Regions from separate parts of the Homo sapiens genome. Here regions 1 and 2 are each linked to region 3. The links come from fine-mapping of genetic effects on gene expression. A gene starts in region 3. Each other region holds a variant in brackets. All regions are shown on one strand. Distances are from middle to middle.

Region 1 (10,692 bases), 83 kb after region 3:
TCTGTCACCTAGGCTGGAGTGCATTGGCTGGATTTCAGCTCACTGCAACCTCTGCTTCCCGTGTTCAAGCAATTCTCCTGCCTCAGCCTCCTGAGCAGCTGGGACCACAGGCGTGTACCACCGTGCTCGGCCAAGAATTTTTACTATTGGTATACTTTCCTTTTCAACTTGAGAGTATATGTGAAATAGGAGAAATTAGAGCACTGAAAGCAGAAGTCAGAAGACATTGTTGTGTTTCCCTTCCTCTTGTGGAAATTCCCATTCTTTAGCCCAGATTCTCAGCCTGCTTGCCTCTGCTTCGCACTGGCTCCATACACATCTTGCTGCCCCACACCCGCAAATAAATAGTGTAGTGGTGTGGGCTTTTGGAGAGTACAGAGTTACAGCTTCAGAGTTTACAGGGCTTATATGTAAGTGTTATTTTTGGGAAAATATTTTATATCAGTGGTTTGGGAATTTGCTGCACCAAAATATTTCCCAGTGCCCTTCCCTCAGCACAGCCCGCTGCTTCTCTTCCCCTGCCAGCTAGGTCTGCTTTAGGCATTGTTTTCTTCCTTCATTTTTGTTAGATTGAATGAACTATAAGAAATTACCAATATTTCATCATATTTGACTTATAAAAACATTTTCATATGGTTTAACATAATTGTTCTTTTTTTTTTTTTGAGACAGAGAGTTTCACTCTTTCACCCAGGCTGGAGTGCAGTGGCGCAATCTTGGCTCACTGCAACCTCTGCCTCCTGGGTTCAAGTGATTCTCCTGCCTCAGCCTCTCGAGTAGCTGGGATTACAGGTGCACGCCACCACGCCCGTCTAATTTTTTGTTGTTGTTGTTGTTCTTTTTGTAGAGACGGGGTTTCACCATGTTGGCCAGGCTGGTCTCGAACTCCTGACTTGAAGTTATCCACCCCCCTCAGCCTCCCAAAGTGCTGGCATTACAAGCATGAGCCACCATGCCCGGCCACTCACCAAATACATTTGATTTAAAAAAAAAAAAGGATATTGGTCTAACAACCTTTTCCCTATTTGATTATTCTTAGTCAAGTTGCTATTTAGCTTTCAGTTTATGGAACCCTTTTAATCTTATTTGTAGCTCTTGATAACCATGTGTGGTAGATATGACAGATATGAGACTTATTTTACAGGTGAAAAACCACGAATCAGATAGATTTTTATTTGCCCAAGTCACATAATGTTAAGAACAGGCCAAGTGTGGTGGCTCATGTCTGTAATCCGAGCACTTTGGGAGGCTAAGGCGGGTGGATTTCCTGAGCCTAGGAGTTTGAGATCAGCCTGGGCAACATGGCGAAACCTCATCTCTACAAAACATACAAAAATTAGTCAGTGTGGTGGTGAGAGCCTGTAGTCCTGGCTACTTGTGAGGCTGAGGTGGGAGCATCACCTGAGCCTGGGAAGTCGAGGCTGCAGTGGCAACAGAATGGGTAACCTGGACATCAGAGTGAGACCCTGTCTCAAAAAAAAAGAAAGAAAGAAACAGAGCTTAAATTCAAATCCAAAAAGCTTAAATTCAAATCTTTTAAAATTCAAAGCCTCTGTCTTTCCATGTTACCACATTGCTTCTCTGTTATTTTTCACATTTACATAGATAACATATTTTCATGCTATTTTTTTTATATTTTTATGCCCCTACCATTTTTATTTAAATCCATCAACAAATATTTGATCACATACTATTTGCCCACTATTTCTTCAGACAGTTTTTTTGTCCCTCTTTCTCTCCTGGGCTCTAATCTTATGTAGGTTAAATTGATTGCTATTGTCCCACAAGTGGGCTCTGTTTTTAATCCCCCCACCAACGCTCCCCCTGTTTTTTTTCTCTCTGTGTTTCATTTTGGATAATTGCTATTGCTGATCTTCAGGTTCACTGATGTTTTCTTTTGTAGTTTTCAGTCAGCTATTAATACCATCCAGTGAATTTGTATTTTAAGTATATTTCACCTATAGACGTTTGATTTGGGTGTTTTATTTATATATTCGATTATCCATTATGTTCATGTTTTTCTTTACACCCTTTAGTGTACTTGCAATAGCTGTTTTTTTCTTTTTTGAAGCGGAGTCTCACTGTGTCGCCAGGCTGGAGTGCAGTGGTGTAGTCTCAGCTCACTGCAACCTCCGCCTCCCAGGTTCAAGTGATTCTCCTGCCTCAGCCTCCGGACTACAGGCACGTGCCACAATGCCCAGCTAATTTTTGTATTTTTAGTGGAGACGGGGTTTCACTGTGTTGGCCAGGATGGTCTTGATCTCTTGACCTCGTGATCGCCCACTTCGGCCTCCCGAAATGCTGGGATTACAGGCGTGAGCCACCGTGCCCAGCCGTAATAGCTGTTTGAGGTCCTCATGTGCTAATTCCATCATGTCTGTCATTTCTTGATCTTTTTCTATTGATTAAGTTTTGTTATTAGTCATATTCCTGCTTTACAAGTGTGGTAATTGTTTATTAGATTCAAGGGGATCCCTCCACAAATCTCCTGTGACCATTCTCAGTACAGAACTCTTTATTCTCACTCTTTCTTGGTTCCACTATTCAAATCTTTCAAATTCTAGCTGCTTTAGATACCCTAAAGTTTAATTTCTCTCCTCTTTTCAGCAAGACTATCCAATTCTGTTTGGGTTCCCTCTCCCTGTGTTGCAGCCGGGAAGCCACTTCCATACAGTAAGCTAGGTAATCATCGGCTCACCTGGTTTGTTGCCTTCTCTCAGGGATCATAGTTAATGCTGCCTGTTGTCCAGTGACTGAAGGTTACGTCATATATTGTGTCTCGTTCACAATGGGAGTAAGGGAGATAGTTTCCATAGTAGTTAATCCTCATGAGTGGAAGTAGAAATCATTACTTCTTGGATTTTAACTTCTGACATATTAAATGTGGGAAGGAATGGGGAGAATTTGTTAGAAAGAGAGATTAATGAGGCCAGGTGCGGTGGCTCACGCCTATAATCTCAGCACTTTGGTAGGCTGAGGCAGGCAGATCACCTGAGGTCAGGAGTTGAGACCAGACTGACGAACATGGTGAAACCCCATCTCTACTGATAATACAAAAATTAGCAGGGTGTGGTGGTGGGAGGCTGTAATCCCAGCTACTTGGTAGGCTGAGGCAGAATTGCTTGAACCCAGGAAGTGGAGGTTGCAGTTAGCTGAGATCACGCCACTGCACTCTAGCCTGGGCAACAATAGCGAGACTACATTTCAAAAAAAAAAAAATTAGAATTACAAATGTGTGTGTATTTTGATCCAAAGTTCTGACTTTATTAAAACAAAAAAATTAGCCAGGCGTGGTGGCAGGCTCCTGTAGTCCCAGCTGCTCTGGAGGCTGAGGTGAGAGGATTGTTTGAGCTGAGGAGATTGAGGCTGCAGTGAGTTATGATTGTGCCACTGCACTCCAGCTTGGGTGACAGAGCGAGACCCTGTCTCAAAAAAAAAATTATCTTTCCATTGCCCAATGGAAAAATATTTAAGCATGATATAATTTCATTGTGTGTCAAGGTGGTCAACTTGTCTTGTAATTGAGTTGAGCTAATAATAAGCCCTTTACCAGTGTACAAGATAAAAGATTTCCTTTCAGTTCATGTGCTAATTAGGACAAAACTAACTTCCATAAAAAACCCAAAAATATCAGTGGTTGAACACAAGAGAAGTTGTGGGGGACTGTGATGCAGTCATCTGGTGATCCAGAGACCCAGGTTCCTTTTATCTTGTGGTTCCATTCGTTTCCTAGGGCCTTGCCTTTGTTTTTGTTTTTGTTTTTTTCCTTATCAGCTCTTTCTAACTCATTGAGATGAAATTCACTTACCATAGGATTCACCCTGTTTACCACCTGTTCTTGTTTTTTTTTTTTTTTTCCGATACAGAGTCTTGCTCTGTTGTCCAGGCTAGAGTGCAGTGGTGTGATCTCGGCTCACTACAGCCTTTGCCTCCCGAGTTCAAGCAGTTCTCCTGCTTCGGCCCCCCAAGTAGCTGGGATTACAGGCACCCGCCACTACACCTGGCTAATTTTTGTATTTTCAGTAGGAACAGGGTTTTATCATAATGGCCAGGCTGGTCTTGAACTCCTGACCTCAAGTGGTCTACCCACCTTGGCCTCCCAAAGTGTTGAGATTACAGGCATGAGCCACCTCATCCGGCCAAATCTTACTTTAGATAACTAAACTTTATTTGTCATAATTTTACTTAGAGGCCTTTTTTTTTTTTTTTTTTGAGACGGAGTCTCAGGCTCTGTCACCCAGGCTGGAGTACAGTAGCGTGATCTTGGCTCACTGCAAGCTCTGCCTCCTGAGTTCACGCCATTCTCCTGCCTCAGCCTCCTGAGTAGCTGGGACTACAGGCGCACACTACCATGCCCGGCTAATTTTTTTTGTAGTTTTAGTA[CAG/G]ACGAGGTTTCACCCTGTTAGCCAGGATGGTCTCAATCTCATGACCTCATGATCCGCCCATCTCAGCTTCCCAAAGTGCTGGGATTATAGGCGTGAGCCACCAGGCCCGGCCTCTTTTTTGTTTTTTTGAGACAGAGTCTCGCTCTGTTGCCCAGGCTGCAGTGCACTGCTGTAATCTCAGATCACTGCAGCCTCCACCTCCTGGGTTCAAGTGATTCTCGTGCCTCAGTCTCCCGAGTAGCTGGGACTACAGGTGTGTGCCACCACGCCCAGGTAATTTTTTGTATTTTTAGTAGAGATGGGGTTTCACCATGTTGGCCAGACCAGTCTTGAACTCCTGAGCTCAGGTGATCTGCCTGCCTTGGCCTTCCACAGTGCTGGGATTACAGACATGAGTCACTCACTGTGCCTGGTCAATTTTACTTAGAGTTTTTGAATCTGCGATTTAAAGATAGGGTTTTAAAAATTTTTTTTATTTCAATAGATTTTTGGGGAACATGTGGTGTTTGGTTACATGAATAAGTTCTTTCTTTAGTGGTGATTTCTGAGATTTTGGTCCACCCATTACTCGAGCATTGTACACTGTACCCAGTGTGTAGGGGTTTTTTTGTTGTTTGTTTGTTTTTACAAGTCTCGCTCTGTCGCCAGGCTGGAGTGCAGTGGCACAATCTCAGCTCACTGCAACCTCTGCCTCCCAGATTCAATAGATTCTCCTGCCTCAGCCTCCCAAGTAGCTGGGACTACAGGCGCGCACCACCACACCCAGCTAATTTTTGTATTTTTAGTAGAGATGGGGTTTCATCATGTTGGCCAGGGTAGTCTCGATCTCTTGACCTTGTGACCACCCGCCTCAGCCTCCCGAAGTGCTGGGATTACAGGTGTGAGCCACCGTGCCCAGCCCCCAGTGTGTGGTTTTTTTATTCCTCAACCGCTTCCCACCCTCTACCCCAAGTCCCCAGAGTTCATTATATCATTCTTATGCCTTTGCCTCTTCATAGCTTACTTAGCTCCCTAGGATTTAAGGATAGGTTTCTAAAGTGAAACTGAAACTAATTGGTAAGAGTGTTATAAATAATATTAATCATGCTTTGTAAGAAAGATACCCTAAGAGATGGTTTATAAATGTATTGCTAACAAAACTTCGTTAATTAATGTTAGGCATTTATGATGCAATTAATAGTAACATTTCCAAGTTCATATTATTGTCTGCAAGGAGAATAAAGGAGAGTCAAAGAAAACAGTCAATGTTTTTCGAAGCCGTGCATGGCTAGTGGGAAGGGTCCTGAGCAGCTGGCATTACTGTTCTTGTCAAAGCTGGCTGTCTATTGAAATGTCTATATTAACTTAGTTTTGTTTTCGGGGGAACTAGGAGGTCTATAAACATTCTTGGGTAGGAGAATGTCATGATGAAATAGTTAAGGAAATTACTCGGGGCACTATGAATTGAAGTGAGGAAAATTGAAGGCGCTGAGAAAGCTGCTGTTACAATGAGACCTCAAAACAGACTTGGGCCAAAGGAGACTAGTAGCAAAGGAGATAGAAGTGGGATTGATGGGGACTTCTTACCTAGGAAAAATTTACAGTGCTTTTGTTCATTCGTTTGACAAATTTTGGGTAAATATTATTTACTGTGTGCCAGCACCTTAATTGTAGGTGCTGGGAATGTGGTGATGATGATACCCTCAGCTCCCCCTTCTAAAAGACATGGTCGAGTGGAGGACGTAGCCATGGTGAGAGCTTTGAAAGAGAGATGCTTGGACATTGGCTAATTGGAGTCTGGATATGTCTCCCTGAGAAGATGATGATTGAGCTGAAGGAATGATAGAATTTAACCAAGTGAAGAGAAGTCAAAGTTTAGGCTGGGTGCCGTGGCTTACTCCTGTAATCCCAGCACTTTGGGAGGCTGAGGCCGGTGGATCACTTGAGGTCAGGAGTTCAAGACCAGCCTGGCCAACATGGTGAAACCCTGCCTCTGCTAAAAATGTCATAATTAGCCAGGTGTGGTGGCGTGCGCCTGTAATCCCAGCTACTAGGGAGTTGAGGCATGAGAATTGCTTGAACCCGGGAGATGGAGGTTGCAGTGAGCCAAGATCACGCTATTGCACTCCAGCTTGGGGGACAAGAGCGAAACTCTGCGCCCAACCCCCCAAAAAAGTCAAAGTTTAACTGTTACACTACCTCCAAAAATATGTAATTTGTGCTGAATTTGAAATGACAGCTAGGCATTTCAGGCAGTTTCCAGTAAGAGGATATAAACTTGGAACTAACTCTTGAACTGAGTCTAAATTTTAGAGTCATCCTGCTTATAAGGCTATAGTTGGGGCTATGAAAATGGCCAAGCCCTCTTAAAGAATGTGTAAATAGAAGACTATGATTCCAAGGACTGAGCCCTGGGGACAGCTTGCGATGAAGGGTTGGAAAGAGGCTTGTGGAGGGAATTATAGGTAACAGGAGGAGTGGTTGGGAGTTACAAGAAGATTTACAGGAGTTTAGTTGTGGAAGCCAAGGAAAGGGAAATTTTAGTTGTGAGAGTCAAGAAAAGAGAAATTTAAAAGGTAGTAAACCCTTGGGTAACTAGAGTAGCACAGCTAAAGTTAATGACTGAGAAAAGAGCATGGTTTCTGGTAAAAGAGATAGAATACCTTCTATAGAACCCAGATTTTTATTTTATTTTATTTTATTTTATTTTATTTTATTTTATTTTATTTATTTTTTTGAGAAGGAGTCTCACTCTTGTCACCCAGGCTGGAGTGCAGTGGCGCGATCTCGGCTCACTGTCAAGCTCCACCTCCCGGGTTCACACCATTCTCCTGCCTCAGCCTCCCAAGTAGCTGGGACTATAGGCGCCCGCCACCACGCCCGGCTAATTTTTGTATTTTTAGTAGAGACAGGGTTTCACTGTGTTAGCCAGGATGGTCTTGATCTCCTGACCTCGTGATCCGCCTGCCTTGGCCTCCCAAAGTGCTGGGATTACAGGCGTGAGCCCCCACGCCCGGCAGAACCCAGATTTTGACCGAAAAGTTTGATAGTGAAGAGAAGGTGAGACTATCTAAAAGGGAGGACATTCCTGTTAACAAAGATCTTTCAGGATTAAGGAAATCCCAGCACCTTGGGATGTTGAGGCAGGCAGATCACCTGAGGTCAGGAGTTCAAGACCAGCCTGACCAACGTGATGAAACCCCATCTCTACTAAAAATACAAAATTAGCTGGGCATGGTGGCGCATGCCTAAAATCCCAGCTACTTGGGAGGCTGAGGCAGGAGAATCACTTGAACCTGGGAGGCAGAGGTTGCAGTGAGCTGAGATTGCCCCATTGCACTCCACCCTGGGCAATAAGAGCGGAAGTCTGTCTCAAAAAACAAACAAAAAAACAGATTATGGAGATCTATTTTTTTATTTATTAAAATATTTTTCACCCCAATCTTACTATCTAGGAAAATCTGTTTTAAAGGCAAAGAAACAGGGAACCAGTAGAGAGGGTGAGAGATTGGAAATGCTGGAGAGGAAGAGGGTGCATGTAAAATGCTACGCAAGAGAGGAAGGAGGAGAGGGTTCAAGCCAATGTGGTGTCACAGAACATGATTTGTACTTTGAATTTGTTTTTGTTTTGTTTTGTTTTGTTTTTTTGAGACGGAGTCTCACCGTCGCCTGGGCTGGAGTGCAGTAACGCTATCTCGACTCACTGTGACCTCTGCCTCCCAGGTTCAAGCGATTGTCCTGCCTCAGCCTCCCGAGTAGCTGGGATTACAGGCGCCCGCCACCAAGCCCAGCTAATTTTTTGTATTTTTAGTACAGACGGGGTTTCACCATGTTGGCCAGGCTGGTCTCGAACTCCTGACCTCAGGTGATCTGCCTGCCTCAACATCCCGAGGTGCTGGGGTTTCCTTAATCTTGAAAGATCTTTGTTAACAGGAGTGTCCTCCCTTTTAGATAGTCTCAGCCTCCCAAAGTGCTGGTATTACAGGCATGAAGCACCTCCTGGCCTTTTTTTTTTTTTTTTTTAAATCTTACATTGAATCTCCATAATCATTAAATAACAACTTCCCATTCCAGAGTCCCTGGCAACCACCATTCTATTTTTTATCTCTGTGAATTTGACTACTCTAGGTATTCCATGTAAGTGGAATCGTGATATTTGTCCTTTTATGTCTGGCTTATTTCACTTTTAATGTCTTGAAGGTTCATCCATGTTGCGGCATGTGTATCAGAATTTCCTTCCTTTTTAAAGGTGAATAACATTCCATTATACGTATACACTGCATTTTGTTTATCTGTTCATCTGTTAATGGACACTTGAATTGCTTCTACCTTTTGGCTTTTGTGAATAATGCTGCTGTGAATGTGGGTATACAAATATCTCTTTGAGACCCTGTGTTCACTTTTTTTTGGTATATACCCAGTAGTGGAATTACTAGGTCATATGGCAATTCTATTTTTAAGTTTTTGAGGTTAGGGCATACTGTTTTTCACAGCAGCTGCATCATATTATATTCCCACCAACAGTTCAGAGAGTTCTAATTTCTTCACATCCTCACCAACACTTATTTTCTGTTTGTTTGTTTTTGAGACGTAGTCTCGCTCTGTTGCCCAGGCTGGAGTGCAACGGTGCACTAATTTTTTGTATTTTTAGTAGAGATGGAGTTTCACCATGTTGGTCAGGCTGGTCTCAAATTCCTGACCTCAGGTGATCCTTGCCCACTTATTAATCAGGCTGTTTGTATTTTGTTGTTGAGTTGTAAGAGTTTATTATATATTCTGAATATTAACCTCTCATCAGATAGATGACCTGCAAATATTTTCTTCCTTTTCATAGGTTGCCTTTTCACTCTATTGATTTGGTCGTCTTCAACTTTGATGTAGTTTACTTTATCATTTTCTTTTGTTGTCTGTGCTTTTAGTGTCATAGCCAATAAATTATTGCAAATTCAATGTCATGAAGCTTTTCTCCTATGCTTGCTTCACAGTATATTGTAGTTTTAGATCTTACATTTAGGCCTTTGATCCATTTTGAGTTAATTTAAAAAAAATTTTTCTTTTTGAAATAGGGTCTCTCTCTGTTTCCTATGCTGGAGTGTAATGGCGTGAATATGGCTTACTGCAGCCTTGACCTCCTGGGCCCAAGCACTCTTCCCATCTTGGTCTCCTGAGTAGCAGGGACGACAGGCAGATGCTACCAGGCTTGGTTTTTTTGTTTGGTTTTTTTTTAGTTTTTTTTGTAGAGATGGGGGTTGTGCCATGTTGCTCAGGCTGGTCTCAAACTCCTGGGCTCAAGCAATCCTCCCACCTCAGCCTCCCAAAGTGCTGGGATTACAGGTATAAACCACTGCACAGGCGTAAAATTTGGTTTTTTGATTTAGCATCTTTTATACCTGATAAATAGCCTTTAGGATTTAGGCCTGTGTTTTAAAAAATGGTGCAACATGAGATTCAGCTCTTCTGGAAAAGTTATCCTAAGGTTTTTTGTTTGTTTTTTTGAGACGGAGTCTCACTCTGTCACCCAGCCTGGAGTGCAGTGGCAGGATCTTGGCTCACTGCAACCTCTGCCTCCCAGGTTCAAGCGATTCTCCTGCCTCAGCCTCCAGAGTAGCTGGGACTACAGGCACGTGCCACCACGCCCAGCTAATTTTTGTATTTTTAGTAGAGACGGGGTTTCACCATGTTGGCCAGGATGGTCTCTATCTCTTGACCTTGTGATCCACCTGCCTTCGCCTCCCAAAGTGCTGGGATTACAGGCGTGAGCCACTGTGCGTGGCCATGCTAAGGTCTTCATATGAAGATCTCTTGAGGGTTTTTTGTTTTGTTTTGTTTTTTGTTTTTGAGACTGAGTCTTGCTGTCACCCATGCTGGAGTGCAGTGGCCCAATCTCAGCTCATTGCAACCTCCGCCTCCCTGGTTCAAGCCATTCTCCTGCCTCAGCCTCCCTAGTAGCTGGGACTACAGGTGTGTGCCACTACACCTGGCTAACTTTTGTATTTTTAGTAGTGATGGGGTTTTGCCATGTTGGCCAGGCTGGTCTCGAACTCCTGACCTCAGGTGATCCACCCACTTCGGCCTCCCAAAGTGCTGGGATTACAGACGTGAGCCACTGCGCCTGGCCAAGGGTTTTTTGTTTGTTTGTTTTGAGACAAGTTCTCATTTTGTCACCCAGCCTGGAGTGCACTGGCACAATCACGGCTCACTGCAGCCTTTACCTCCCAAGGCTCAGGTGATCCTCCTGTCTCAGCCTCCACCACCCCAGGAGCTGGGACTACAGGCGCATGCCACCACACCTGGCTAATTTTTGTGTTTTTAGTAGAGATGGGGTCTC
Region 2 (10,692 bases), 190 kb after region 3:
TTTAATAGAGACGGGGTTTCTCCATGTTGGCCAGGTTGGTCTTGAACTCCTGACCTCAGGTGATCCACTCACCTGGGCCTCCCAAAGTGCTGGGATTAGAGGTGTGAGCCACTGCGCCTGGCCAAAATAACCCCCCCCTTTTTTTTTTTTTTGAGACGGAGTTTCACTCTTGTTGGCCCAGGCTGGAGTGCAGTGGTGTGATCTCGGCTCACCACAATCTCCGCCTCCTGCCTCACCCTCCAGATTAGCTGGGATTACAGGCATGCGCCACTACGCCCGGCTAATTTTTGTATTTTTAGTAGAGATGGGGTTTCTCCATATTGGTCAGGCTGGTCTCGAACTCCAGACCTCAGGTGATCTGCCCGCCTCAGCCTCCCAAAGAGCTGGGATTACAGGTGTGAGCCACCGCTCCTGGTCTTAACCATTTTAAAGAGAAAAATTCAGTGACATTTAGTACATTTACAGTGTTGTGTGGTCATCATGTCTGTCTAGTTTCAAAACACTCCATGACTCCAAAAGGAAACCCTGTGTTCATTAAACAGTTACTTTCCATCCCTCCTGCCCCAGGTATGCTGGCTTTTTTTTCTTTTTTTGCAAGAGAGACTAACTGTATCTGTCAATAACAGCTTTGTCATGGCCCTTGGAAAAATACTAGTTTTCACCTGCTTTACCCTCTGCTAATTCTTCATAGCTCATCTAGAAGAGTCCAGTCCTATCTCATAATGTTATATCTACATTTTCCTGCTTTTTCTGATTTAGGTCAATTTGAACTCATTTCTCCTGAGTCAAGTGTATATGCTCTCTTGAATTGGATCTGACCTTCTACCTGGTGTTCATAGACTGACACATTAGTTTTGCTAAGCAAAACAACAAACACAAAACTTTCCAACTAACCTAGTCTGAATGAAGCCAGTTCACTTTTATCAGGATACTGTCATAAAAGAATGTTGTTTATATAGTATATTAGAAACTGCTGAATATGTATAATCGCATTGCTAAAGATATGGGCTTTTCGAAGCCTCTTGCACATTTTATTTATTTATTTATTTATTTATTTATTTATTTATTTTTTTGAGACGGAGTTTCGCTCTTGTTGCCCAGGCTGGAGTGCAGTAGTGCAATCTCAGCTCACCACAATGTCCACCTCCCGGGTTCAAGCGATTCTTCTGCCTCAGCCTCCCGAGTAGCTAGGATTACAGGCATGTGCCACCATGCCTGGCTAATTTTGTGTGTTTAGTAGAGACAGGGTTTCTCCATGTAGGTCAGGCTGGTCTCAAACTCCCGACCTCAGGTGATCCGCCCGCCTCGACCTCCCAAAGTGCTGGGATTACATGCGTGAGCCACCGCACCTGGCCGCAACATTTAATTTTTATTCTGGAAGATATTTGAGGTATAAAATTTGGGAGATAAAATACAGGGTTATTTGTTAGTTTCCTCATAGCAGGTTTATCTCATATCTTTGTGTTTTTGTTTTGTTACCTTTCAAGTATTTAGCTCATTTTTTCTCATGCAGCTCTCACGGGAGTGCCGAGCTGAAGTCCAAAGGATCCTACACCAGCGTGCCATGGATGTCAAGCTGGATCCTGCCCTCCAGGATAAGTGCCTGATTGATCTGGGAAAATGGTGCAGTGAGAAAACAGAGACTGGACAGGTAGGTGACATCGCTTTCTGTTTGTCTTACAATAATGATGATGTTAATGTTTAACATTTTATGCAGAGTACAAACACCATAAAATCCATCTCTCTTTACCTTACAGATGTGATTTGTTGTATTGTTCAATATTTTCTCTGGAAGAAATTCTCAGGAAAATTTTCTCTCTGGTCTTTGTATCAGGAATAGTTGGCAGTGAGTTTGTGTTTGCATTATAGTTATTGTATTTTGTAATTGATTATTTTCCCTCTTCCTGTTGCTTATTAAAACTTCTAGAGCCAATGGTATGGCCTGCCTCTTACAGGTATATAAGATTTCATGGTAGGCATTTTTGTAGAAAGCTTACTACTGGCTCCATTTCACATCCTCTTTCCTTTCCTTTTTGTTTCTCTTCTTTATTCATTTTACTCATTTTTAATTCATTTTCTCCATTAAGTCCTTTTGAGATAAGCAGGGTGTAAATCTGTGCGTATGTGAGTACTGGTCTGCATGAATAGTGGGCATGCCCTAGAACAGTCCCAAAAAACATGTAGAAATGGAATTTTTTCTCACCTGGTTGACAAATTGAAGCTCAGAGAAGTTAAGTGTATACATTCCCTTACCTAAAATTCAGTTCAGTTCATTATATAGCCTCTCCATCTAGGAAGCAGAGGGAAGGAGCAGCCCCCAAAAATTCCCTGAGTGCTGTGATTGGCTCCTTAGGATTGTGTCCCAGTTTAAGGGAAAGAAGGAAAGATGCATGACTGCAGGTCATGTGGGAAGCTAGCTGTCTTCCATCTGAATGCAGGATACTCAGCAGTAGGAATACTGCGTGTTTAAAGCCACATAAATAAGGAGTGAACTCAGGTTTCTGGGTTCCATTTGTACCACTACAAAACCCCCTCTGGAAGTACAGTATGAAAAAGTCACACGTACAGGAATTGGACATTTTAAAGGAGAAACATGGTTGCCTACTCAGGTCTGTTGAGCATAGGACTATCATGTTCAGCAGTCTGTTTCCTGAGCCTGCTACAGTTCTGTTGGGTATATTGTTAGAAAATGCTTATAGTTGAGCTTTCTGTTGCCTCTGTCCAATGAAACAAGGGATATGGTGATTTGGAATCCCAGAAAATAGTTTCCTTTAGAACCCCGAGTAAAGTAAACTTTAGAAAGCTGCACTACATTGCAGCCCGTCATGGAGAAGCTAAACTTAAGAATTCTTTTTTTTTTTTATTTTGAGACAGTTTCACTTTGTCACCCATGCTGGAGTGCAGTGGCACGATCTCGGCTCACTGCAACCTCTGCCTCCCGGGTTCAAGCAATTCTTGTGCCCCAGACTCCTTAGTAACTGGGATTACAGGCACCTGCCACCACACCCACCTGATTTTTTGTATTTTAGTAGAGACAGGGTTTCACCATGTTACCCATGCTGGTCTCTAACTCCTGAGCTCAGGCAATCCACCTGTCTTGGCCTCCCAAAGTGCTAGGATTACAGGTGTGAGCCACTGAGACCAGCCAGGATTCTATTAATAGGATGTTTCTCTTAGCCATTTATTTTACTCCCAAAAGTTTGGGGTATTTTCCTTTAGCTTTTTTATTTCTTCTTCTTCTTCCATTCTGGCTGTTGTATAATTCCTACAACTCCTCTCTTCCCCTCACATTCTAATTCTGAAACAGAGAGATTCTTGCAGAATAGTAAGTTAAACTTGATCCTTTAACAGAGCACTTTGCTAAGAAATAGCTGTTGATATGCTTTGTGAAAGTGAGCTGATATTATACTTGAAACCTCTAAACCTGTAAACCTCTAGAAGGAATAGTAATAGACTAATGCTACAGATAGCTCCAGCTCGGTTTCCAAAGCCCACACAAGATAGCTTTTAAGTACCCAAACCCTAGTGTGTTCACTTGTTTTTCTTCAGAGGACCCTTTTGATGTGTACTGGAGTTAGAATCCCAGATCTGACTTGCAGGAGCTATCAGTTGTATCCTGTGTTCCAGACCCCTGGTTCCCAATTACTTTGCCAATAAAGAGTCTTAAAATAATCTGTGCTCTTCACTGTGAATTTGTCTGATGATCATTATTAAAGTGCATATTTAAAATGAGAGATGAGAAATTATCAAAGCACAGATTGAAAATAGAATCAAGGCCTGATAAGGTTTTTAGACTTTGAGGACACTTGAAGATTGATTCTCCTTGCACTTGTAGATTTGGTCTTCTGAGGGATTTGCACAGCTCTTTTTTTTTTTTTTTTTTTTTTTTGAGACGGAGTTTCACTCTTGTTGCCCAGGCTGCAGTGCAGTGGCACGATCCTGGCTTACTGCAGCCCCCGCCTCCTGGGTTCAAGCAATTCTCCTGCCTTAGCCTCCTGAGTTGCTGGGATTACAGGCACCCACCACCACACCCGGGTAATTTTTGTATTTTTAGTAGGGATGGGGTTTCACTGTGTTGGCCAGGCTGGTCTCGAACTCCTGACCCCAGGTGATCTGCCCACTTCAGCCTCCCAAAGTGCTGGGATCAAAGGTGTGAGCCATCATGCCCAGCCTTTGCATGGCTCTTGTGCCCACTTGGCCCTCATAACCAACCTGCTACATGAAGTAATTATCTTTTCAACA[A/G]TCTCAGTCTGGGGAATTAAACAAAGCTTTTGTGTCCTGTTCAGTGAGGTAATTTTAAAAAGAAGAGAAAGGAGGACCACTGAAAAGGGAAGTGTCATGACGCTGATATCTCCCCTTGCCTTGTTCATGTATGTGACTGATAAATGCCAGTGGCTTGCCTTTATATTTGCAGGAGCTGGAGTGCCTTCAGGACCATCTGGATGACTTGGTGGTGGAGTGTAGAGATATAGTTGGCAACCTCACTGAGTTAGAATCAGAGGTAAGTGGTATGCAGCTTACTCATTGGAGGAGAGTGGCTGCCAGCATCCTGGCCTTTTGTGTTTGATTCTACTGTTTCTAGACTCCTGAGAGTGCAGATTTTCTGTCAATCAAAAGAAACCTGATCAAATTTTCCATGTTTGCTTTATAAAGAAGTATATTGTGTTGCTTTGTGAGCTCCTTCCCTCATTTCTCTAGAACAACACTCTATACAGCCCTTTGGTTTTCTTCATAAATTAGGTTTATCATAGTCATTAGACTTGCCTCTGTTTCTCCCTTAAGATAGCAGCTGTACGGCCGGGAGCGGTGGCTCACGCCTTGAATCCCAGCACTTTGAGAGGCCGAGGCAGGCGGATCTCGAGGTCAGGAGTTCGAGACCAGCTTGCCAAACATAGTGAAACCCCGTCTCTACTAAAAATACAAAAATTAGCTGGGTGTGGTGAAACACGCCTGTAGTGCCACGTACTTGGGAGGCTGAGGCAGGAGAATCACTTGAACCCGGGAGGCGGAGGTTGCAGTAAGCCTAGATTGCGCCACTGTACTCCAGCCTGGGCAACAGAGTGGGAGACTGTGTTTCAAAAAAAAAAAAAAAATAGCAGCAGTACTTCACATCACAGTCACATTCAAGAGCAATCTACACATTCCCGTTCTCTCATCCCTCGCTCTTTTAGTTAGGTCATTTGGTAATGTTTGTGTGTTTCAGAACATAAAAGCTGAGGACTTCCAGCTAAGCATGGAAGATTGAATACGTATGTTTATCCCTGTTCCATCCTGAAACCCACTAAAATATTTTAAAAATGGGATTAGAGGCCAGGTGCAGTGGCTCACACCTGTAATCCCAGCACTTTGGGAGGCGAGGCGGGCGGATCACAAGGTCAGGAGATCGAGACCATCCTGGCTAACACGGTGAAACCCCGTCTGTACTAAAAATACAAAAAAATTAGTCAGGTGTGGTGGCGGGTGCCTGTAGTCCCAGCTACTCGGGAGGCTGAGGCAGGAGAGTGGCGTGAACCCGGGAGGCGGAGCTTCCAGTGAGCCGAGATCACGCCACTGCACTCCAGCCCGAGCAACAGAGCGAGACTCTATGTCTCAAAAAAAAAAAAAAAAAAGGTCAAGACCATCCTGGCCAACATGGTGAAACCCCGTTTCTACTAAAAATACAAAAATTAGCTGGGCGTGGTAAAACATGCCTGTAGTGCCAGGTACTTGGGAGGCTGAGGCAGGAGGATCACTTGAACCCGGGAGGCGGAGGTTGCAGTGAGCCGAGATTGCACCATTGCACTCCCGCCTGGGCCACAGAGCCAGACTCCGTCTCAATAAAAAGAAAAAAAAAAAGGGGGATTAGAAACCCTCATAAAGCACTGGGATGTTATTTAGAAATACAGAGGAGGGCAGCTAAACATGTTAAAGTTATTTTGTGGGGCCAGAAATCAGAGAAGTGGGGAACTACCATTTTGTCTTAAACCTTTTAGTACTCTATTTGAATTGTCATAATGTAAAATTACGTTTCTCAACCAGTTCTTTTTTGCTTTCTAGTTTTCAGAAGTTCATTGCCTTCTCTCATTTCGTCGTCATCTCTCACATTATCATTGTCATCATGGACTTATGAGAGCAGTCTGGGTGTATAGCTCTTTAAAGGAAGGTGTTTTTTCAGGAGCTAGTGTTGCACGGGTTTCTCTCTTTAAAGGCATTATTAGTATGTGTTCCCCAGTAACAGTGGTTTGGCATCTGCTTTGAGGGCAGTGCTCTGGCTTATGAGCTTATAAACTGAAGATGGATATCAGTTACCCCTGTTTTCATTTTGAACTACTTAGCATTTTGGGAAAATCTGCAAAGGCTTTGCATACTCTAATGTTATTGCTACATGTGTTTTTACCTCACTTTTCTTAATTCTGCCTTCTCATTTGTTCAGGCCGAAAGGGAATATGTCTTTAAAAATTTGCCTTTCAAAGTATAACGGAGGAGCAGTTCTATATTTATTCTGGGGCTATCTACTTCAAATACTAGAATCGTTTCCAAAAGTATGTATTAGATTATTTGCCCATCAGATATTACTGATTCAGAAAGAGAAACTGCTCCTCCTCCACCCTGGCTCTTTCTAAAGCAGAAGTATTAATATATTTAATTTTCTACAGGATATTCAAATAGAAGCCTTGCTGATGAGAGCCTGTGAGCCCATAATTCAGAACTTCTGCCACGTAAGTGATGTCTGGAGGAGCAAGGGTTAAAAACAGAAACAAATTGACAGGGACTCTCCCCTGAGTATCTCAGACTCACCTCTGTCTGCAGCATGTATTACTCTTGAGTGTTAGCCAGCTTTGACAAGTTAAAATTAAAAATGTAAACAGGCCGGGTGTGGTGACCAATACCTGTAATCCCAGCACTTTGAAGCCAAGGAGGAGCACTTGAGCCCAGGATTTCAAGACCAGCCTGGGCAACATGGCAAAACTCTGTCTCTACAAAAAATAGAAAAAATTAGCTGGGCGTGGTGGTACACACCTGTAGTTCCAGTTACCTAGGGGGCAGAGGTGGGAGGATCACTTGAGCTCAGGAGGTCGAGGCTGCAGTGAGCCGTGATTGTGCCACTGCACTCCAGCCTAAGCAACAGAGTGAGACCCTGTCTAAAAAAGAAAAAGTAAACAAGATCGAGAGAGAGATGCTACCATCCTGGAACCTGTGTTTGATTAGCTTTTGTAGGTAAAAACAGGTATGTGGCCAGCAGCAGTTACTGAGTTGCCCTTTTTAAGAAGAGATGGAACAGGGAAACCCCCATTAGTATGCAGGGTTGATTCCAGTACATCAGCCTAGGAATTGTTAGCATCTGCCCAGGAATTGTTAGCAGTAATAGTGGCTCCTTCTTCCAACTGTCTCCTAGTACCTCAATATTGAGTGAATTCTGACTATTTCATATTCATTTACTGAACTATTTAAATTGTGGGAGTGAAACATACCCAGGAACCATTAGGATCTGACAGTTGGGAGGCTATGTTAGATATTGTCCCAAAAGCCAGCTGCTTTTCGGAAAGTGAAAAAAAAAGCGTATATCATGTCTTATACGGAACACAGTGCTGTGTTAGTTTTATGCCACTGAATGTATACCATTGTGATTCTTCAGGCTTATTTTGATTACAATTTATGGTGTGTCTTTTTTTTGTGAGGGCTTCTAGAACTAACCTTGCTTGCATTTGTTTCGGACTGGGCTACAAGTTTTGTTCATTAATTGTTACCAATGAAGTGTAAATGCATGCTGTCTTCCCCAGGATGTGGCAGATAACCAGATAGACTCTGGGGACCTGATGGAGTGTCTGATACAGAACAAACACCAGAAGGACATGAACGAGAAGTGTGCCATCGGAGTTACCCACTTCCAGCTGGTCAGTGACACCTGGCTGCCAATATCCCATCATAGCTGCCTGGATGTTGACTGAATCCTTTCCTTTTTTGGAACATCAGAGCACCTCTGATGTTCTGTTAAAAGTCATTTTTTTCCAGCCAGGCGTGGTGGCTCACACCTGTAATCCCAGCACTTTGGGAGGCTGAGGTGGGTGGATCACTTGAGGCCAGGAGTTCAAGACCAACCTGAGCAACATGGTGAAACTCCGTCTCTACTGAAAATACAAAATTAGCCAGGCATGGTGGCACACACCTGTAATCCCAGCTGTTTCAAAGGCTGAGGCAGGAGAATTGCTTGAACCTGGGAGGCGGAGGTTGTAGTGAGCCGAGATCGCCACTGCGCTCCAGCCTGGGCAACAGAGCAAGATTCCATCTCAACAGCAACAACAAAAAAATCATTTTTTCCAGCCGGGCATGGTGGCTCACGCCTGTAATTCCAGCACTTTGGGAGGCTGTGGCAGGCTGATCACCTGAGGTCAGGAACTCGAGACCAACCTGGCTAACATGGTGAAACCCTGTCTCTACAAAAAATACAAAATTAGCCTGGCGTGATGGCGGGTGCCTGTAATCCCAGCTACTCGGGAGACTGAGGCAGGAGAATCACTTGAACCCGGGAGGCAGAGGTTGCAGTGAGCCGAGATCGCACAACTGCACTCCAGCCTGGATGACAAGAGAGAGGCTCTGTCAAAAAAAAAAAAAAAAAAAAATTACAAATATATGTCCTATTTTTATTTAGGATGGATGGATGGAAGGAGGGAGGGAAGGAAGGAAGGAGGGAGGGAAGGAAGGAAGGAGGGAAGGAAGGAAGGAGGGAAGGAAAGAAGGAAAGGAAGGAAGGAGGGAGGGAGGGAAGGAAGGAAGGAAAGGAAGGAAGGAGGGAGGGAGGGAAGGAAGGAAGGAAGCCTGCCTGTTGTAGGGGGAGTACTGGAGAGATGAGCAGGTCGTGATGTCTCACGTGTGGGTCAAGCCATGCAGGGTCTTGTAAACAGGCTTGTGAGAGCTATATGAAAAAGTGCGCCCTACCACTACTGACCACAAGTTGCCACAAAACTTCTGACTTTCTTTCTCTTTACCTTTCAGGTGCAGATGAAGGATTTTCGGTTTTCTTACAAGTTTAAAATGGCCTGCAAGGAGGACGTGTTGAAGCTTTGCCCAAACATAAAAAAGAAGTATGTAGCTTGTAGTTGTTTCATTCCACTTTCCCGAAGTTCCTCTTAGCTCCGGAATGAGTATGCGAGATGTTAGGCAGCCCTCCTGCTGCCTCGTGGGGTTAGCCCTGGAGGCCTCCCGCATCTCTCCTTTGATTAGCGTGGCAAACACTCGGACTGTCTGGACAGAGCATCTGGCGATGGTAGTTCTCACATGGAGGTCCCATAGGCTAAAGGAGCATTTTTAATTTTTCCAGGTCAGGCCATCTAACTGACCAAGTAGGGCTGGATTGTGTACTTAGAGAAGCAGGGTGCAGTGTGAGTGAAAGAGGCGAACTGACCTCTTCCCTGCGTCGTCCCGTTATGTCATCTCATCTAAGATGCAGCAGTTTTTGTATTGGATTAGATATTTAGTGAAGAAACAGAATCTTTATTCATTTAAGAATTAAGTCTTTTTGAGGAAACTGATGAGCTTTTTCAGCGTGACTGTCCAAATTCTTCCATGTTGCTCTTTGAAAGGACCATTTCTAGAACACTTGCCCTCATACAAACCAAATTCCCAATTTGCTCAGGTTTCTCTACCTTTCAGGAGTGAGTTTCACAGTAGGTCAAAAGTACAGTCCTAGAGTTAAGAGCAGCATTCCTCTGTGGTCACATGTTTTTAACACAGATGTTGAACTGTCGTTGCACACATGTGCCCTGTGTGGCTTCCCCTTCTGTCAGGAATGTAGTCAGCATTCATGCTGCTGCCTGCCTTTCATGACACCCACAGTCAAATTGCAGCTTTTAGCACCCTGAAAAAAAATACAGTGAGCCTTACAGGAAAGACATTCCCCCAAAGGGCATCTTGAATTCTTAATGGTGTGACCCCCCCCAAGCCCAGCTCTCAGGCCATCTGCCCTTGTGTGGCCCCAGCCAGCCTCAAGCTTCTTTCGTCTGCAGGGTGGACGTGGTGATCTGCCTGAGCACGACCGTGCGCAATGACACTCTGCAGGAAGCCAAGGAGCACAGGGTGTCCCTGAAGTGCCGCAGGCAGCTCCGTGTGGAGGAGCTGGAGATGGTAATGCCTCCCAGCCTCTGCTCCCAGAAACCACAGTGGGCCAGGGCTTGGAAAGCTGGGGAGAGGCTAGGGCAAGGGGGAGGCATTTTATCCACTACTGTGATGGTTAAGACTTGAAGTCCTGTGCAAAAGTTTTAACATACGACCATTAGCTTCCTGTGTCATTCTTTTGATTTTGAATGATAAAACCTTTCTTCCCACATGTAACTGGAAGTCCAGCTGTAAGACAGGCTCTAACTAAGCATGTGATCCAATCACTGGATCAGTAATGTCCTCAGGGGCTGGGTGCTGTGGCTCATGCAGGTAATCCCAGCACTTTGGGAGGCCGAGGCAGGTGGATCGCTTGAGGTCAGGAGTTCAAAACCAGCCTGGCCAACGTGATGAAACCCTGCCTGTACTAAAAGAGACTTAGGCCAGCGAGGTGGCTCATGCCTGTAATTCCAGCACTTTGGGAGGCAAATGCGGTCAAATCACTTGAGGTCTGTAATTCAAGACCAGCCTGGCCAACATGGCGACACCCCATCTCTACTAAAAATACAAAATTTAGCCAGCTGTGGTGGCACATACCTGTAATCCCAGCTACTTGAGAGA
Region 3 (9,920 bases):
GCCTAGGTTTCAAGAGGCCTTATAAATGTCTGTTGGAACCTTACCCAGCCATGAACATGTTGAGTGAGCATGCTGGAGAATGAGAGACCACATGAAGCAGAAACATGCTTTCCTAGCTGAAGTCATACTAGCCCAACCAACATGGCAGCTAACACATGAATGAGGCCAATCAAGACCAGAAGAACCACTCAAGCAGATCCCAGCCCAAATTGCCCATTCACACAATCAGGAGCTAAATAAATTACTGTTGTCTTAACACTAAGTTTTGTGGTGGTTTTTTACACAACAGAAGTAACTAGGCAGAAACTGTTCAATTCTTCCTCTTGCCCAAGGAATCAAGTACAAACTTCCTATTTGGATATCCATAGCCTTATGGATATCCCCCATACCATACTTTCCAACCTGACTTTCCAATCAGATGCCAGAGTTCTCCTACCAGAGATTGCAAACTCTAATACCCATAGGGCCTAGGAAGGAAACTAAATGAATGATTTGAACCTGGAGGGGGCTTCAGTGGGCAGATGAGCAAGAACAGCGTCTCCTCAACTCCAGTCTATACTTTGTCACATAGAATGGGATCCCAACATTTCTAGAGCTTTCCATTTTGTCAAAAGAGCTAGAAAGTTGGATTTTTCTGTGATGTCCTTATTTTTAAAGGTCAGTATCTCATTAAAAATTATTTTAGGCTGGGCACGGTGACTCATGCCTGAAATCCCAGCGCTTTGGGAGGCCCAGGCGGGAGGATCATCTGAGGTCAGGAGTTCGAGACCAGCCTTGCCAACATGGTGAAGCCCTGTTTCTACTAAAAATACAAAAATTAGCTGGGTGTGGCTGCCACATGCCTGTAATCCCAGCTACTCGGGAGGCTGAGGCATGAGAATCGTTTGAACCTGGGAGGCGGAGGTTGCAGTGAGGCATGATTGCACCACTGCACTCCAGCCTGAGTGACAGAGTGAGACCCTGTCTCAAAAAAAAAATTATTTTAATGCTGATAAGACAAACAAAATATGTCCACATAGGAGCTGCCAGATTTTAATCCCTGCCAGACTCAAACCCATGTTTGTGGTGCTTTCATTCTAGATTTCTTTTTTTAAGACGGAGTCTTGCTCTGTCACGCCCAGGCTGGAGTGCAGTGGTGCAATCTTGGCTCACTGGAACCTCTGCCTCCTGGGTTCAAGCGATTCTCCTGCCTCAGCCTCCTAAGTAGTTGGGATTACAGGTGCTCACCATCACACCCGGCTAACTTTTTGTATTTTTTAGTAGAGATGGGGGTTTCACCATGTTGGTCAGGCTGGTCTCGAACTCCTGACCTCAGGTGATCCACCCGCCTCGGCCTCCTGAAGTGCTGGGATTACAGGTGTGAGCCACCGCGCCCGGCCTAGAGTTTCACTCTTGTTGGCCAGGCTGGAGTGCAGTGGCGCAATCTCGGCTCACTGCAACCTCCGCCTTGCAGGTTCAAGCGATTCTCCTGTCTCAGCCTCCCAAGTGTCTGGGATTACAGGTGTGTGCCACCACACCTGGCTAATTTTTGTATTTTTAGTAGAGACAGCATTTCACCATGTTGGTCAGGCTGGTCTCGAACTCCTGACCTCAAGTGATCTGCCCACCTCGGCCTCCCAAAGTGCTGGGGTTACAGACATGAGCCACCACACCTGGTCTCATTTTAGATCTTATACCTTTGTTCATGGTGTGTGCTTTGCCTAGGATACACTAATCCCTGTCTTTAAAGTTACATTTTTTTCAGAACTCATTCTAAATCATTCAACAGCAAATGTGCTGTCCATTGTTTCAATCACTGAGAAGACAGCAATAAAAATACATTTGGGTCTTGTATTCTAGTAATCATCTCTGGTGAAGAAAATTATGGCTGATTTCTATTACTATTATTATTATTATTATGAGACAGGGTTTCACTGTGTTGCCTAGGCTAGTCTTGAACTTCTGGGCGCAAGTGATACTCCCACCTTGGCCTCCCAAAGTGCTGGGATTACAGGCATAAGCCACCACACTCGGCCTTATGTTTTTATCTTTTACTTATCCTTGATTTTTTTAAAACCTAGAACATGGTTTTTTTCTATAAATAAAAAATGCAGAAGAATATAAACTTAATATGATTATTTTGTAGAACTTACTGGCAGGTATTACTATTTTACTATTTTCCTTCCTTCCTTTTTTCTTTTTTCTTTTTTTTCAGAGGCAGGGTCTGCTGGTCTGGAACTCCTGACCTCAAGGGATCCGCCCACCTTGTCCTCCCAAAGTGCTGGGATTACAGGCATGAGCCACCATGCCCAGCCACTGTTTTCATCTTTAAAATCATTTGTTCTATTTACTGTAGGAGTTACAGTGAAAATTCTCCCTGGTAGATGAATTATTCATACTCTGGCAGACCCACAATTATTATAGGTGAATTTACTATAAGCCTGATAAAGCTTAATCTTCAGGGCCTTTTACTTGCACAGGATGCCTTCCAAGGCCCTGTACCTGATTTTTCCCAACACTTATGTATGAAAATTTCCAGATACACAGAAAAGTCAGTACAATTGTACTCTGAACAACCATATACCTACCACCTAAATTCTACAACTAACAATTTATTATATTTGTTTTATCACATACCTATTTATCTGCTTGTGCCTCTTTCTAGCCATTAATTCATCCTGATTTTTTATGCACTTCATTCCTAAACACTTCAGCATTTATGCCATTAACTGGAGTTTATCTCTCTATGAGCTTTTTTTTGGCGGGGGGGTGGGAAGGTAAGTTTTTGCTGTGAAAAATTTGTGTGAAATGCACAAATCTTAAAGATAGCATTTGATGAGTTTTGACAAATGCATACATATGAGTAATCCAAACTCTATCAAGATCATGAACATTATGGCCGGGCGCGGTGGCTCACGCCTATAATCCCAGCACTTTGGGAGGCCAAGGCGGGTGGATCACCTGAGGTCAGGAGTTCAGGACCAGCCTGGCCAACATAGTGAAACCCCACCGCTACTAAAAATACAAAAATTAGGTGGGCGTAGTGGCACGTGCCTGTGATCCCAGCTACTCAGGAGGCTGAGGCAGGAGAATCACTTGAACCCAGGAGGTGGAGGTTGCAGTGAGCCGAAATCATGCCATTGCACTCCAGCCTGGGCAACAGAGCGAGACCCTGTCTAAAAAAAAAAAAGTTCTAGAGCTAAAAAAGATTATTCATATGGCACAAAGTGATCTCCTACTAGTCCAAAGTTCAAAAACATTTTAATAAAGTCCATTCATATATCTTTTGTTTGCTTTCCAATGGAATACTACGTTTATTGAGGCAAAATCACATTATTTTTAGTTCTTGGAGTCAAAAAGCGTACACGAATGTTCTTCAACACAGTTACTAAAAATACAAGACCAAGTTGAATGTGCCAAAGAGATACCATTCAGTTGGGTTTTCTAGAGTCATCAGGAAGAATATTAGAGAAGGGATTTACATGGTTGGTTTCCATAGCTTGATAGACCAAACACACACAAAAAAACTGCCACAACAACAAACAGCAAAATTTTTATCCATACAGGAATGGAGCGTCCCTTTTTTTTGTATTTTCTCACTTGACGTCTGCCAAGGGAACATACTTAGGAACATATGTAGATGAAAACGACTCCTCCATCCTCAAATCACTGAGTTCTAATGGCCGGCCTGCAGCTCCTTTGATTGTTCTGCGGCAACTAGCACTAATTCTTGTTGGTGTAGTTGCTTCATAGGGGAACATTTCCTTAAGAATATCCCTTTCTACTCTTCTTTCCTGTGTTTTTTTTCTCCCACTTCAGCTCTTGTCAATGGTTTCTTTGGTGTTCTTCTGGGTATGTCTGAGAATTCAGTGACTGGCAGAATAGGAAATGCATGCTTGAAATTTCCAGTCACCCTATTGACAATTAAGGATTCGTTGTTTGAAGCAATTATAGTTTCAGCTATGGGAGTACTCGCTGAAATTACTGCTCCATCTATACGAAAATATTCTGAAGCGTGCACCCTTTTGCTTGGAGTTCTTCTTGACCCTCTTGTAGATTCCCTAGTTAATAATGCCTGCAGAGGTCCGCCTTTTGAAGATCCACTTGTCCATTCAGTCCCAGTTATTCCAGCTTGAGAATAGCTCTCCTTGTGCTCAACTCTTCTTTGCTTGAGGGTTACTGGAGTCTTTACTCCCCTGTTTAGCGGTTCTCTCTTCTCAAACTTGAGCCCAATTTAGAGTCTTCTTCATTTTCACCATATCTGTCAGAATCATTACTTCCATTCTGCCTTGTATTTTCTGCTGAAGAAGAAATTGTTGCTGAAGGAGACGATCTTGATTCTGTTCCTTGCTCCCTCAGTTTCAAAAGCTATTTCTCATACAGCTTCCTGGTTGTTCCCACAATAGGACCACAATTCACTCCGTATTTCACAAGCTGATCCAAAGGATCTTCATTAGTGAGTTCTGTTACATCTAGATCGTCTTTATCATCTTGTCTGGGTTTATCAGTTTTCTTTGTGGCTTTCCTGCCGGCGGCGGGCTCGGAGCCGAGACGGCTGTGGGCTCGCGCTCCTCGTACGTAGCTGGAGAATTCCGGGGGCCCCTTTCTTTTGGCGCTGGCGGCGAGCGGCGGCCCTAACAAGTGATTTGAGACTGTTCAGTAGCTCAGATCCCTTGCAGCGGTTTGAGATTGAAGAGATTATGTAGGCAAAGTATTTTGCGTGAGCTCTTCAACCCCATGAGAGGATACATATGAACTGGACTGTCCTACGCCTCTTTACAGGCTCCGAAATTCAAAATATTGAAATATTTTGAAATTATTCGATTAGCTGCTATCCTTTGGATACAGATAACTCCTTCACTAAAGCGTTAGGGATAAGCAGCAGGAGTCAGTTTTAATATCATCATCCCCATTCCAAAATGGACCGAGAAATCATATAACTTTCTCCCGCCAGAAAGTTCAAATAAAACGCGCTAAAAAAAAAAAAAAAAACCAAACAAAAAAAAAACAAAAAAACCTCCCATTTTTTCCGGGGCGGGTGCAAGGTGACGGACGTAGATTCCTGCCAATTGTAGGAGGCTTCCTCAAGCGCGGTCCCGCCTCGTCAGGACGAACTACCAGCCAATGAGAGCACCGCTGCTTCAGCTATCGGGGGACCCATTGAAGAAGAAGAGTGGGTATTGGCCACAGCGTAGGGCTTCTGTCCAATAGGAGCATGCCTGCCGGCGGCTCTGGCGGGAGCTTGAGCGGCTCCGGAAGTGGCAGTTGGCGTAGGTGCATTCGGAGTGCGGCCGAGGTAACTACCGAGTCTTCGGCGGGCTCGCGAGCCCGGCCGCGGCCTGCTGGTTTCAGGTGAGGAGGGGTGTTGCTTCTCCTCAGGCCTTGGGCCTCTAGCTTCGGGATAAACCTCCCCACGCCTGATTCCTGGATTGGGATTCAGGAGACACCCCACGAGGTGGGCTGCACGCGGGCTTGGAACCCGGCGGCCTGAGGGGATTCGGGCCCTCGGGGCGGCGCCAGTGGTCGGGGCTAAGGAGCCCGAACCCCCGCGCGTATCTGGGTTGCTGGGCGTGGGGGCTGGGCAGGCGAGAGCTCGGGGCGATCACTGAAGGAGCCGAGTTCGCTGCTGCGGGGCCTGCCCTGGCCGGGGTGGGAGGTCGCCCGGCCCTTCCCCCGAGAGCCTAGCCTCGGGCTCCTCAGCGGCGTTGCCTGCGCCCGCTCTGAGCGCCGATTACTTCATCACTTTAAAGTTGATGGAAGAACTTCATTTTTAATTTCATCACGGAAACTGTGGAGTAAAGACTTGTATTATCCCTGTTTTACAGGAGAACAAGTTGAGCCGAGTTTAGGAAACCCGCCCAAAGTTTCCCCATGTAGTAAAAGAACAGGGATTTAATATCTATGTATCTAATCAATCTATCTATCTATCTATCTATCTATCTATCTATCTATCTAATCTGTCTATCTAATCTATCTATGTCTTTCTTTCCCCATGTAGTAAAAGAACAGGGATTTAATTTCCTTCTTTCCCTCTCTCCCTTCCCCTCCCGTCTCCCTCTCCCTCCTCTTCCCCCTCCGCCTCTCCCTCTCCCTCTCTCTTCCTCCCTTTTTCCTGTTATAAAGAGAAAAAGGTGTTATAAAGAGAAAAGCGGTGGCTCAGGCCTGTAATCCCAGCACTTTGGGAGGCCGAGGCAGTCGGATCACCTGAGGCCAGGAGTTCGAGACCAGCCTGACCAACATGGAGAAACCCCATTTCCCAGCTACTCGGGAGGCTGAGGCAGGAGAATCGCTTGAACCCGGGAGGCCGAGGTTGCAGTGAGCTGAGATCACGCCATTGCACTCCAGCCTGGGCAACAAGAGTGAAACTCCATCTCAAAAAAAGAAAGAAAGAAAGAAAGAAAAGTCTCCCTGTTGCACCCAGGCTGGAAGAGCTCACTGCAGTCTCGAACTCCCGGGCCCCAGGGATCCTCCCACCTCGGCTTCCCGCAATAGCTGGGACCACAGGTGCGCGCCACCACGCCCGGCTCATTGTTTTATTTTTCTTTTTTCTTTCTTTTTTTGAGATAGAGTCTCGCTTTGTTGCCCCTGCTGGAGTGCAGTGGTGCGATCTCGGCTCACTGCAACCTCTGCCTCCCGGGTTCAAGCGATTCTCCTGCCTCAGCCTCCCAAGTAGCTGGGATTACAGGCATGCGCCACCACACCCGGGTAGTTTTTGTATTTTTAGTGGAGACGGGGTTTCACCATATTGGCCATTCTGGGACTCCGACCTCAAGTGGTCTGCCCTCGGCTTCCCAAAGTGCTGGGATTACAGGTGTGAGCCACCGCGCCTGACCTGTTCTATTTTTCTTTTTTGGTAGAGATGGGAATTTCACTGTGTTGCCCAAGCTGGTCTGGAACACCAGAGCGTAAGTGATCCATCCGCCTGGGCATTTCAGTGTCCAGGGATCACAGGCGTGACCCTCTGCACCGGCCAGAGCAAAGATTTGAACACTTCCCCCGCCCACCTCTTCTCAACCTTTAATTGAGGGGCTTTCGTCCTGCCTGTTGTGGCCATTGATTGAAACCTGAGTAACAAAGATGACAAGTCTGAGGTTGACATTTTAAGCACCGCTCACAGCACACATAAAAAACAGCGTTTGTGTGACATCCTCAAGGTTTGGGGTGCCCAGCCCATGGTCTCTCGTTCTAGGCACCTCCGACTGGCCTACAGTGGTTAGGAAGCTTCAGCTCCAGAACTGCACCGTTCCATAGAACTTTGTGCGACGAGAAAAGTGTTCTGTATTTCTGCTGTCCAGTATGGGAGTCACCCGCCCTATGTGTGTTTCTAGCAGTTGAAATGTGACCTGCACGACAAAGGAACTTATTTTATTTCTTTCTTTTTTCTTTTTTTAGACGGAGTCTTACTCTCTCTCCCGGTCTGGAGTGCAGTGGCGTGATCTCGGCTCAATGTAACCTCCACTCTCCGGGTTCAAGGGGTTCTCCTGCCTCAGCCTCCCAAGTAGCTAGGACCACAGGTGCACACCATCACGGCTGGCTAATTTTTTTGTATTTTTTGTAGAGACGGGGTTTTGCCGTGTTGCCCAGGCTGGTCTCCAACTCCTGGTCTCCAGCTACCTGCCTCAGTCTCCCAAAGTGCTGGGATTATAGGCGTGGGCCACAGCTCCTGGCCGAATTTGATTTTTATTTAATTTAAATAACCATATGGGAGTAGACAGTGCGGCCCCCTAGATTCTGCTCTTTTTAGTCCATTTCTCCCCTTTGTCTTCCTGAAGGCTGAGTTGCTTAATGTCTCTTGAGTACATCTAGAAGTAGCTTGGGCCTTATGTTCTGACACACAATTCTTGGGAGACTGTCGTTGTACCCTAGAAACATTAAAAGCTTTTAGTTAGGCAGCTGCAGTAGCTCACTCCTGTAATCCCAGCACTTTGGGAGGCTGAGGCAGAAGGGTTGCTTGAGCCGAGGAGTTGAAGACCAGCCTAGGCAACGTGGGAAACCCCATCTATACAAAAAATGTTTAAAACTTGAAGTATCTCACATTGTTCAGTTTGCAGACTTTCTTTCCCACTTATTTTCAGTACTGTGCCACTCTCCATCCTGAGTGTAAGCCTGTGTGGTTCAAACCTCCAGTTTTCTCGTGCATAGGGGGAGAAGGGCTTTGTTCTGTGTTTTGTTTTAGCTGGCTGGTGTTTGAGTAGGAGTCAAGCTAACTGCTTTACTGGCTTTTAACCAGCCCTTCTCTTTTAGCGCCATCTTTCAATATTGCCTTTTGTGGTACCTGGTTTTTACAGTCCCTTTAGTGGGAATCAGCTTGCTTCTCAATAACACACCTCACCCCAACCACTGTGCCCTTTGCAGGCTTTGAGTTTTATCTTTTGGCTCTGCTAAGCAGTCATCAATCATCAGTTTCTCCTTTATGGCCTTAAAAAACTGGTTTGCATATCATACCCTGTTTGCATTTGTGTCGTCCTGGTTAATTTATCCTTTCTTAAAAAAATGTCTCAGGTTGTGGGGGTCATGTTCGTGGGTTTTAGGAATGACTGGAGTGGAGAGAGAAAGATACATATATGTACTTCGTCCACTATGTTTATTAGAATTCCTTCCATTTATTCAGCCTGCACCAGTCTGGCCTCTGACCCCACCACTTCAGGGAAACTGCTTTTTTAGGTCACCTGTCATCCTCATGTTGCCAAATCTAGCGGCCGTTCTTCCCCCCAGTAGCACTTGACACTCAATTGTTCCTTCCTTGAAACATTGTTTTTCCAAGACACCACATTCCCATGTTTCCTCCTACTTTATAATCTTCCTTAACTGGCTTCTTTTACTCTGTTGTACTTTTAACAGTAGTGTCTCTGACTTTAGTCTTCAGCCCTCTTCTGTCATTCTGTTCCTCAGGTGGTTTAATCTGCTTTGATGATTTTAAGAAACATGAGTATTGGCCGGGCGCGGTGGCTCATGCCTATAATCCGAGCACTTTGGGAGGCTGAGGCTGGCAGATCACCAGGTCAGGGGATCGAGACCATCCTGGCTAACACAGTGAAACCCCGGCTGTACTAAAAATACAAAAAATTAGCCAGGCGTGGTGGCAGGCACCTGTAATCCCAGCTACTCGGGAGGCTGAGGCAGGAGAATGGCGTGAACCCGGGAGGCGGAGCTTGCAGTGAGCCGAGATCGCGCCACTGCACTCCAGCCTGGGCAACAGAGCGAGACTCCATCTCAAAAAAAAAAAAAAAGAAGCATGACCATTCTGAAGATTCTTAAAGCTGTCTGTTTGTTTTCATCTCCACTGCTACCACTCTTGCCTAGGTCTCTCTGACCTCTGGTCTGGACTCCCACAATAGCCTCTACACTGGTCACCTAGCTTATGCTCTTGCACCCCTACAGTGCATTCCTAACATAGAAGAAACTCCTTACCAAGGCCCATAGGCCCTTTAATAATGGTGTCCTGTTCATCAGTGAAACCCATGCTCATCAGGGACCTATGCACTGATTTCCTTCTGAGACTCTTCTTGGCTCTTTGCATAGCCAGCTGCTTTTAATCCTTCATGCCTCAGCCCAATTTTCACTCTTTAAAAGAGTACTTCCCTCACAATTGTGTCTTAGTTGGTCCTCTTTGTCTCCTCAACCCCAAACATCATAATCTATAATTTTTTTCATGTATTTGTTTATTGACATCTTACTTGCTAGAATCTAAACTCTGATACATGGGGTCTTATCTGTTTTTGCCTCTAGGGTGTCTTGTCTGCATAACAGGTGCTTAATAACTATTAGTTGAACCCCCATTTCCTCATAAGTCAGATGAAAATAAAAGCACGTGCCTTACTTCACAAAGTAATTAAGGGGATAAGTTATACTGATGTACTTTAAAAACTAGGTGGTAGGGAGGCACAGTGGCTCAGTCCTGTTGTCCTGATGCATGAGGAGGTAAGGCCAGGCATTCAAGA

Direction of the effects. Alleles are on the strand shown, and positions count from the first base shown. SD is a standard deviation of normalised expression in the study named. Not every link is listed here.
For the expression in whole blood of the gene that starts at base 5,240 in region 3, allele G in region 2 goes with a higher level than allele A (large effect, 0.90 SD a copy in TwinsUK).

Evidence for each region.
Region 1: its variant is fine-mapped to the expression of RFWD3 in thyroid (GTEx, PIP 0.94).
Region 2: its variant is fine-mapped to the expression of RFWD3 in whole blood (TwinsUK, PIP 0.95).

Annotation. Positions count from the first base shown.
Region 1 is chr16:74,579,230-74,589,921 of GRCh38, reverse strand. The region is part of intron 1 of GLG1 (golgi glycoprotein 1); the gene reads left to right. Among named protein-coding and RNA genes, the nearest start is that of GLG1, 23 kb to the left of the region's middle. The variant CAG/G (reference allele first, on the strand shown) is at 4,384.
Region 2 is chr16:74,468,355-74,479,046 of GRCh38, reverse strand. It overlaps GLG1 (golgi glycoprotein 1), which reads left to right. Exons shown (of 26, transcript NM_001145667.2): 12 at 1,514-1,651; 13 at 4,415-4,501; 14 at 6,636-6,698; 15 at 7,761-7,874; 16 at 8,974-9,062; 17 at 9,984-10,101. Among named protein-coding and RNA genes, the nearest start is that of CLEC18B, 52 kb to the right of the region's middle. The variant A/G (reference allele first, on the strand shown) is at 4,243.
Region 3 is chr16:74,662,197-74,672,116 of GRCh38, reverse strand. RFWD3 (ring finger and WD repeat domain 3) reads left to right here and starts at 5,240. Exons shown (of 13, transcript NM_018124.4): 1 at 5,240-5,331. MLKL (mixed lineage kinase domain like pseudokinase) reads left to right here. Exons shown (of 11, transcript NM_152649.4): 11 at 1-262. It also overlaps the pseudogene TMPOP2. RefSeq lists a silencer at 5,561-5,710.